Linked DNA regions of Homo sapiens: region 1 is linked to region 2. The links come from fine-mapping of genetic effects on gene expression. A gene starts in region 2. The other region holds a variant in brackets. All regions are shown on one strand. Distances are from middle to middle. Region 1 has its middle 70 kb from the start of ZDBF2. Region 2 holds the start of ZDBF2 (zinc finger DBF-type containing 2).

What was found. PIP is the estimated chance that this variant, and not a neighbour inherited with it, causes the effect. A credible set is the group of variants that fine-mapping cannot tell apart.
Region 1: its variant is the best candidate, but not a certain one, in a credible set for the expression of ZDBF2 in tibial nerve (GTEx, PIP 0.90).

What each region holds. Positions count from the first base shown.
Region 1 is chr2:206,341,686-206,347,179 of GRCh38, reverse strand. No RefSeq gene overlaps it. Among named protein-coding and RNA genes, the nearest start is that of ZDBF2, 70 kb to the right of the region's middle. The variant A/T (reference allele first, on the strand shown) is at 3,341.
Region 2 is chr2:206,272,119-206,277,376 of GRCh38, reverse strand. It overlaps ZDBF2 (zinc finger DBF-type containing 2), which reads right to left and starts at 2,714. Exons shown (of 5, transcript NM_020923.3): 1 at 2,431-2,714. RefSeq lists an enhancer at 1,857-2,356 and silencers at 2,020-2,479, 2,760-2,819.

The DNA.
Region 1 (5,494 bases), 70 kb before region 2:
TTAGCACTGGACACCCAGGTCAACAAATGGCCCTATCTTCACACTTATTATAAATTATTGGGCCATAACCTAAAAATTGTCCCCTATAAAGTAAAAAAAAAAAACAAAAAAAAAAAACAAACTCTCAGAATTTCTTGCCTTGCACACACCCAAAATATAAATCAAAATCATATAGGTCTCCACATACACTAAGGCCACACTACAAGCACAGGCCAGAACACTCCTTATTCCCCTTCGAGTTACAGACATTACTGATAATACCAAGACACACACTTCACTCTTTAAAATACACACTGCTGGGCTCTTGAAAAAGAAATTCACTAGAACTTTCATGTCCCTGATAGGTGTCTGATAACCAGTTTAACTGAAAGACATAATGACCTCAAACAACTCCTTTCAAATTCCAGTTCAACAAATAAACCCCCAAATAAATTTCCAATTTTCCCTAGATCTTAGCTTATCTTTATAAATTTTCTTTTTTTCTTTTTTTTTTGTTGAGATGGAGACTTGCTCTGTCACCCAGGCTGGAGTGCAGTGGTGTGTTCTCAACTCACTGCAGCCTCCACCTCCTGGGTTCAAGTGATTCTCCTGCCTCAGCCTCCTGAGTAGCTGAGATTACAGGCACGTGCCACCATGTCTAACTAATTTTTGTATTTTTAGTAGAAATGGGGTTTCGCCATGTTGGCCAGGCTGGTCTCAAACTCCTGACCTCAGGCGATCTGCCTGCCTCAGCCTCTCAAAGTGGTGGGATCACAGGCGTGAGCCACTGCTCCTGGCCTTATCTTTACAAATTTTCAATCTCACCCCCATCCTCTAAGGGCTGGAGGCCAGCAGTAGGGCACTCTTGTCCTGGAACTCATTCACTATAGATTATCCTGCAGGCCAGGCCGCTGCTTATCAGATATGGGGCCTGTTCAAACTTAAACTTCCACCCAAAACAAAAATTCCTTTCAGGCGCAGATATACACCATTCTACTAAATGGTGGTCTTATTACTATTGGTTTTGGTGCTTTCATTGATTTATCCAGAGGCCCAAATCCTCTAGTAAGCTACTGTTCCAACCAAACATGGCAAATTCTGAAGCCCACATCAGTTCAAGCAGGTGTACAAAGTAGAGAGCAGAGAAGCTTTTTTTCCTGTAATGCACGATGGTGCTGCTCACACAGCAACTGAAAAAAGTTTATATGGAATCAGACTTGTCAGTAGCAGAAATTTTGAGACCAAAGTGAACTCTACTTAGGACTCCAGGAAGTAGAGAATATCATTTATTCACAATAGTACTTTATATTCAGTGGCCAGACTCATTTTTAACAGTGCTTTTCAGAATTAAGCGTTTCCTTGGGAATAAAAAGGGAGATTCACAGGCTTTGACAAGCAGCCTCCCACGGGCTTCTAATGTCTGATCAGAGATAAAAACTGTGAAGCATACTTTGTCATAAAATATCTGTCAGACTATGATTTTTATGAGATAATTTCAATGGGCCTTAAGATGTAGAACTAAGACATCTTTTTTTTTTTTTTTTTTTTTTTGAGATGCAGTCTCGCTCTGTCACCCAGGCTGGAGTGCAATGGTGTGATCTCAGCTCACTGCAACCTCTGCCTCCCAAGTTCAAGCAATTCTCCTGCCTCAGCCTCCCAAGTAGCTGGGACTACAGGTGCCTGTCACTACACTGGGCTAATTTTTGTATTTTTAGTAGAGACAGGGTTTCACCACGTTGGTCAGTCTGGGCTCAAACTTCCGACCTCAGGTGATCCACCTGCCTCAGCCTCCCAAAGTGCTAGGATTACAGGTGTGAGCCACCGCACCCAGCCCCCTGAATTCTTTCTTGTGTGAGACCCAAGAACCCTCTCGGGATCTGGATCAGGACCCCTTTCCAGTAACACTTGGACACGGACACAATGCAGCCCAGCCCTTTGCTAGGGCATAACACAGGTGACTTTACTCAATTCCCAATAACTCCACATTTCCCTCTGAGACCTTGTCAGCCTGGCCTTCACTGCTGATATTTCTATCAGCATGTTGGTCACAACCATCTCACAGTCTCTAAGAAGTTTCAAACTCTCTATCATCTTCCTATCTTCTTCTGAGCCCTCCAAACTCCTTCAATCTCTGCCCATTACCCAGTTCCAAAGCCACTTCCACATCTTCAGGCATCTTTATAGCAACACCCCACTCTTGGTATCAATTTTCTGTTTAGTCCATTTGGGGTTGCTATAAAGAAGTACCTGAGACTGGGTAATTTATAAAGAAAAGAGGTTTAATTGACTCACAGTTTTGTGGGCTGTACAAGAAGAATGACGCTGGCATCTGCTCAGCTTCTGGTGAGGTCCCAGGGAGCTTACAATTGTGGCAGAAGGCTAAGCAGGAGCAGACATGTCACGTGGCAAGAGAGGGAACAAGGGGATGGGGGAGGTGTCACACTCTCTTAAACAACCAGGTATCTCAAGAACTCACTCATTATCATGAGAATGTCACTAAGCCATTTATGAGGGATTCACCCCTGTGATTCAACACCTCCCACTAGGCCCCTTTTCCAACATTGGGGATTACATTTCAACATGAGATTTGAGGGGACAAACATCCGAGCCATGTCACCTGCTCCTGCCTGTAAGTAATGAGTAATAATGAGACATCCAAGGCCTTGGAATATAGTCCATTTCAGTCTGACCAGTAGTTCCTATTCTGGGGAGTGATAATGACCATGGTCACCCCTCTTACCCTACTAAGGTTGGCAATTTATGGTTCCCAGGGAGGACGTGGACTTTCTAGGACCCATCCAACATAGGGAGGGGAGTTTTGGCAGCACTCAACTAAGACGGCAGGCAGCAGCACACAGCAATAGGGGGTCTTCCCACATGGTGTCAGCCACACGGGAGAGCCAGTTAGTAAGCCAAGAGCAGGCTAAAGCTATGTTGCTGTGTCCCTCACAGTTGTGACCACACACCCTACTCACTGTACCAATAGTACTTTCCTCTCATTTGATCTTTTTGTGGGATTTGGTCCTGAAAAAGATCTTTCCCAGGAGAGTAGCTATAAAGTCTAGCCCTGCCCTGACAGGGCTCCAGGGAGGTGGTTGTGGATGTTTACAGTATGCTTCACAGAATACTTCTTTATCTATCCTGGCCTAATGCCTACATTTCCAACCTGTGACCAGGTGTACCTCTCACAGGAAGCTTGTTTACACTGGCAGATACCCTTGTGGCTTGTGTCTGACCTGTGTCCAGTTTATTCTTACCAAGAGAGCCACTCTCTAGGAGAGCTCCGACTATAAGGAGAGTTAGGTTCAGGTGTGTTGGTCAGGTGAGACATAGAGGAAGTGGGCACACCAAAACACATGAA[A/T]TAACCAAAGCATTTTATTACTCACAGATCCATGAGAGAAAAGCAGTGCCCATGAGGGCTGACAGAAAGTCCAGTAACAGTATGGGATTCAGCCAGCAGATGGAAGAAAGACAGAGAACCCCTTATCTGTACACATAAGGGGTTGTACATACCTGCATTATAGCAGGTATGTACTATATTTGCGGAAATGCAAAGACTCAGTAAATCCTACTTCAAGATTGGTGGGGACCATGACAGGGGCAGAGACAACTGCTGTTCTGTGGTAAGCAGGTCTATGCAAACCTACCCCCAAAGGCCAAGGGTGCTGAGAGGCCAAAGAAAGAAGCAGACAAATTTAGTTTCTCAGAAAGAAATATTTAATAGGGACTTACCAGTGGGAGCCATTTCTCTGGTGGCCACAAGATGGTGGATCCCCACACCCATCCTGCAGAAAGTATTCTTTATATAGCAAGCTTTTAGGGTAAAACATGTGCAGCTAGTTATGCCTCAGACTTCCTTGTGAAATTCGTGACCGCTGGGCAGGTTAGGCAAACATCCTTATGAGGGGTTATCCATGCTACAGGCATTGTTTAAAGAACACTTTGGTATGTGGGGTCAAACATCAATCATCACGGCGGTTTCACTTCAAGATGGCATCACTCTTGCCATACAACAGGCTGTTTTCCTACAGCCACTAATTGGTTAAATATATAAGGAGTTAGGGAAATTCTCAGGAAGGAGGTAAGGAAGGTTGGAATGGGTAAAGTGAGAATATCATCAAAAATAGTGAGTGTGGGTCATGCCCATAATTTCAGCTATTTAGGAGGCTGAGGCAGAAGGATTGCTTGAGGCCAGGAGTTCAAGACCAGCCTGAGCAACATAGCAAGGTCCTATCTCTAAAAAAAAAAAAAAAAAAAAAAAAAGTTTTTAATTAGCTAAGTGTGGTGGCTCACATTTAATTCCAGTTACTTGGGAGGCTGAGGCAGGAGGATTTCTTGAGCCCAGGAGTTTGAGGTTGCAACCTGGATGACAGAGTGAGACACTGTCTTTTAAAAATAAAGTGAGCAGTTTTACTATGGAGATGAATGACAGTAGGTACCTGGCAAAAGTATTAATATTCGCCTAGTCCTGGGGACCTTCAACAGGATGACTTAATTGAATGGGATGGCTATCATGGTGAGGAACGGCTGTCATGGTGAGGATTTCAAGTCTCATATCAAACTAGAATGGCAAAAATTGGAGGGCAAATGGATCTTTCAGTATCTCTTAAATTATACCACATACACAGATGGTAGATAAATAAAGGGAGGTTAATAAGGGAAATGCCTTTAGCCATATATATGGTAAACACTTACTAGGCATTCAAACATGAACAAACCTAGATCCCAGTTTTAAGAACCATATATTACATATCCATCCCTTTTCATTTTGTTTTATTCTCATATTAGAGTGTAGCTGCGGCTGGGCACTGTGGCTCATGCCTGTAATCCCAGCACTTTGGGAAGCCAAGGCGGGTGGATCATTTGAGGTCAGGAGTTTGAGACCAGCCTGACCAGCATGGTGAAATCCCATCTCTACTAAAAATACAAGAATTAGCTGGGCGGTAGTGGCATGCACCTGTAGTCCCAACTACTTGGGAGACTGAGGCAGGAGAATCATTTGAACCCAGGAGGCAGAGGTTGCAGTGAGCCGAGATCACGCCACTGCACTCCAGTCTGGGCAACAGAGTGAGACCCTGTCTCAACAACAACAACAACAAAAAGAGTGTAGCTGATAAATAGCTACTAAAATGCTCTCCAATGTGACCAAATTACTATACTCTATAGCAGGCCAGTCCCTTAGCTAAATTATAACTGACTCTTTCCTTTGAGCTCTGAATACGTGTGACCCAATCATGCTCTGAACAGTTTATATGCACAAGGATGATTACAATAATTGCATTTACTGTAAAACAGGTACACCCTGTCGAAACTTATTTAATTCCGAATTACATTCCAGCCATTTTGTGTGTCCCTTCCAAAATAGAAGAAATAACATTCCAACTCTCATTAGGTCAGCAATGAAGATATTGAATTAAATCAGAATAGTGAGCAAGACAGTTTCAAGGAGCTCTCATTTAAAAAGGAAATTAGATGTTAAGCTGAGGAAAGGGGGAGGAAAATTAGTTCAAAAGAC
Region 2 (5,258 bases):
GACTTAGGCAGAAATGTCTTAAAATACAAATAAAACAGCATTTTGTTTTTGGTTTTTTTTTTTTTAAAGAAATATTTCTTGCACACCTGAGATCTGCACCAGCTGCAGAGGTAAACATGGATAAAAATATTTCTGAAATGAGTCTGGAGTTGTCGTGTGTGTATTTCTCAAACTGAGTGTGGCGTGGCAGTGTGGTAAGAACTAACAAAACCCACAATCCTCATAAAACATATTTTTCAACTGCCTGACAAAAGAGACATCAACTTAATTTGAAAAATAATAATAATAAGGAAAGACAATAGAAAGGCATTTGGTTTTCTGAATAAGACAATCTAAATTTTCCGTCCAGCAGTAGGGAAACAATTGAGGAGCAATGACAAAACAATGGCCGAATGCATAAAAAGACCACACTAATTCAGTGTCAGTTCCTCCACACAACACTACTAATTTTCAATTTTCCCCTTTTCTGGATTATCCACGCTATGCTGGCTTTCCTCTGGTGACAAGCATTATCCTAGACACCTCTATTCAGTCTTAATAAAATAATAATAGCTAATACTTAGTACTTAATCTGAGCCAGGCGCTCTGTCAACAGCTTCCTGTGCATTATCTCATCTAAATAACAAACAGCTTTATAAGGTAGCTGCCATGATTAATTCCCATTTAACAAATCAGGGAACTGAGGTTGAGAGAAAAGAGGTATCTTGTTGCAGGTCTCACACCAATAACCAGCGTAACTGAGATGTGATCACTGGTCAATTTGAGTAGTTTATGCTTTAACCTCTTAACGACTTAGACACTTCCTCTCTGTATTTTTAGGAATACTACTTGTTTTAATATTAGGTGAAAACAAATAATTAGGACTCTTATTTGCTGCAATCAACATCACCACTATTCCAAAGAAAAAATAAAACTAATGTCTAGTTTAATTGCATCTTGCTCATTTGAGTGCTGACAGTACCTTGGATTAGCGACTCTCAAGATTATTTAACATGACACACAGGAACCAATAAATTTTTAATTACAACCGAGCACACACGCACAGGCACATACGCACACTTAAAAGATTTTTCACAAAACAATACTCTCATTACATGTAATGCAGTCTGATATTTTCTATGCGATCTTACTTTTTTTAATGCTAGTCACGACCCACTAAATTTCACAATGCACACGCGCACAGTTAAAATATTTTTCACAAAACAATACTCTCATTACATATAATGCATTCTGATTTTTTTATGCGATCTTATTTTTTTTTAAATGCTAGTCATGACTAAATTAATTTCACCATTCACGAACCGGCTGAAAAAACTCAGTTTGAAAAAACACTGCCTCCAATTATTATGCAGAGTAAACCATATTTTATAGAAACCAGTTCTTACCCTGAATTCAGCTTATTTCTATCCAAATCACTGGCCACTGCAGTGATACTTTATCAACTCTCTAACGAGTTGCTTTCTTGCCTTCTAGGCTTTAGGTTCAAACGATAGAGAAAAGGTCTTCCACGTATTAAGTGAAAAAAGCAAATAAACACCCCTTATGTAACACACGTATATATGTTTGTGTATTAATTAAAAAGGAAGGAAAGATACCCCCCAAATTGTTAGCAGATTCTCTCGAGGATGAGATCGCTACAGGCTGCCTCCATCGTCCCTCCCCCTCCCCACACGTAGCATATTGCTGTAAAAAAGAAAAACAAAAACAAGCTATTTCCTTTAGGTGGGGGTGGGGTTTTGGTCCCTTGAGAACCAGTATCTTGTTATGCATTTTTTTCACGAGCTACCAAGAATCATCGCGTGAGATAATCGCAGGAGCTGGTAAGGCCCTTCTTAGGAGCAAGTAAAAACGATGGCGTAACACGACCACATTTACACAACTGTTGCACGGCGGTAGTAAAAGAATCATTAACACAAAAATCAAACGTTTTCAAATAAACTATAATCGCCCGAGGCTGGGAAAGGCCTAGGTCTGGGGCCAGCTGGACCCAACGCAGGGCACTGGGGGAAGGGGGTGTGTGGACAGGTGGCTCGGGATCTCGGCCCCACAGGTGCCCAGGGGCAAGACTCCGCGGGTTCCCGGCCCTCAATCCGACCCCGCAGACCGCCCCCTCCCCAAGCCCGGACCCGAGGCCTCGTCCGCCGGCCCCTCTGACCCAGGGCCCCGGACAGAAGCGCAATGCAGCCTGCGCCCCACCTCCTTCCCTCGCCCCGCCACCTCGATCCCGGCCCGGAGCCGCCGACACCTCTCACGCAGCAGGGGCAGAAAGGGACGCGGGGTGGGGGGAAGCCGAGGACCTGCGAGGCGGCCGCGGGAGCCCAGCGAGCGGTCCTGGCGTCCCTCGGGAAGAAGGCGCCCCGGGCGCCCGGCGAGCAGGCCCCGCCCGCGGGCGTCGCCCCGGCCGCGCCCCGCCCCCGCCGCGGCACTCACCTCCGCGGAGGCTGCCCGGATTCCTTCCGGGCCGCGGTGGAGACCGAGGACCGAGCCGGGCGCTCTCCCTTCTTATTCCGGTTCCGCGGCGGCGCCCGAATCCCAGACCGTCCGAGCGCCACGGCCCCGCTGCCCGCGGAGCCAGAAATAGGCGACTTCGGCCCCTGCGGTCCGGAGGCGAGAAGCGGCGCGGGAGCGCGTCTCTCAGGACGCGGGCCCCGAGTCGCGACTCCACTCACGCAGGCATCCAAGGCAACGTGGCGTTGCAACCCTGATGGAGGTTTGACGTCAGGGAAGGTGCGAAAACCAGACCCCTTCTGACGCAGGAGCGGCGGGACCGCCCCCTGCCCGCCCACCCACTCACTCACTCTCCCACCCGGGCGGAGGAGCCCCTTCCTCCCCTCCAGAAGCTCTTAAAGCGGACACTTCCTCCCTGGTCAGGGCCCCACTCCGGAGCTTGGGAAATCTATCGCGTTCCAACAAAAATGACTAGACTCATAAGCACAGTTGGGACGCGAAGTAGAGACCAAGGTTTTAGCGTTTGAGGGTCCAAATAAAAACTGCTTGCCAATTCAAAGCAACGTATGAATGTAGAAAAGAAAACGGGGCTAAGAGAGCTAGTCGTTTCCGTTTCCATGCCTATTTCATAGTGAGGTGCATCTCACAAAAGCTGCTGTTCAATGAGCGCTTGCTCTGTGCTAGGCACCGTTTAAGGTTTCTATACATTATTGCATTTCATTTCAGAGTAACTCTGAATGAATCCTATTATTGTCCCCCTTTGACAAATTGAGAAAACTGAGGCTTAAGGAAGTTAGGTATTCAAAGATCTATCCTGCACATTAAAGGGTTACAAATATTAACAAACAACATTAGGTCATGCAATTATATTCACTGCGCTACCCCATTACGAATATAGTTGTGAGCAAAAACAGTTTAAGTGTAACGGAGATCACAAACCTAAATGAATCACACTACTGAATATGAAATTATAATCTGCGATAAGAAGGTTCTGAAACACCTAAACCAATTTTACTAAAATGGAGAGAGGCCCTGTTGCAAAGCTTATGTCTAATGTAAAAATAATCTTAAAATGAGCTACTTTGCTCTTTGGCTGTAGCTGTAATTGTCGTTACCCTTTTTAGTAAGCTTGTGATTTTGTCCCTTTAAAGAACAACAACAAAAAAACTTGCCTATTGCTTTTGCGTCCATTGTTTTTATTCTTTCTGTATTTCTCAGCTCCTTCTTCCCCCACTACATCTTTCTCTCACTTTAAAGTTGGGCTCCTGCAACTGTTCGATTTATAACCTCCCTTAGATTTAACATACCAAAAAGTACGGATTTCTTTTAAGGCAAGTTTTTTCCACATCCCAACTTTGGAATTATAGAAAATCCACTATACATTGATCGAAGCACCATGACATTATGTATTTCACAGATGCTAAGCCATGTTTTTCCCCACATTTTAACATCTGTGAAATCAAGATGCATCTTATAAACTCTCGTTGACCGGGTGGCAGTACAGACCTGGTTGTCATTACCTCCACGTATTACAACGTGGATGTTGCTGTGCAGGTTGTCCTCATTTCAACTGAGATAAGTGCATTGTTTAATAAAACCCATAACCCTAGGAGGAAGGGAATTAACAGACAAAAGTCACTCAAACTTGGAGAGAGATTTTCCTAGGGAAAGAGGGAAGATTTGCCTGGAGAAGATTTTCCTAGGACCAAAAAGAGATTTCCCCAGCATTTAGAAAAGAAAGAGATGGGACTGGCTAAGAACTAGTAGTCTTCTGGGAGCCCTGAGTTACTTACCAAGTACATTCATTCTTGATGGATTTTGGGAACCCATATATGAACAGTTAAATACTAAGCCTACTTGCACCCCCCAAAAATGAAATAACTTCGATATTATTCTTGATAGCCTGATTAGTCAGTTACAACCCCTACAGCTTTTATTCAATAACACCATTGAAGGAGGAAAACAAGTCCTGAATGTTTTGCGTGAAAACACAAAATTGACATATTCAGGTGAGATCAAGAAGGTGCCAGCATCAAAACTTGCAGAATAAGATCAGCTGCTTGGAAGAAAATCCTGCATACAATAGTGCAGCATTCTTCCTTCCTTTCTCTCCCTCTCTGTTTTTTGTTTTTGTTTTTGTTTTTGTTTTGAGACAGGGTCTCCTTCTGTCACCCAGGCTGGAGTTCAGTGGCGCAAACACGGCTCACTGCAGCCTTGACCTCCCAAGCTCAAGCGATCTTCTTGCCTTAGTCTCCAAAGTGGCTGGGACCACAGGCGTGTGCCACCATGCCTGGCTAATTTTTTTACTTTTTGTAGAGATGGGGGTTCTCACTTTTTTGCCCAGGCTGGTCTCGAACTCCTGGCTTCAAGGGATCCTCCCACATTCACCTCCCAAAGTGCTGAGATTACAGATATGAGCTGTAACTGTGCCCAGCTGGAGCATTCTTAAAGTTAGATGCATCACCAACACTTTTGGTGGAAAGCTACAGCCATGGACAACTGATTCAAAAAGTGATTCATAAAAGTTGAGCTCTGGGCTTGGCGCGGTGGCTCACGCCTGTAATCCCAGCACTTTGGGAGCGCGAGGTGGGCGGATCACCTGAGGTCAGGAGTTTGAGACCAGCCTGGCCAACATGGCGAAACTCCATCTCTACTAAAAAAAAACACAAAAATTAGCCAGGCATGGTGGTACATGCCTGTAATCCCAGCTACTGGGGAGGCTGAGGCAGGAGAATCACTTGAACTTGGGAGGCGGAGGTTGCAGTGAGCTGAGACCGTGCCACTGCACTCCAGCCTGGGTAACAGAGTGA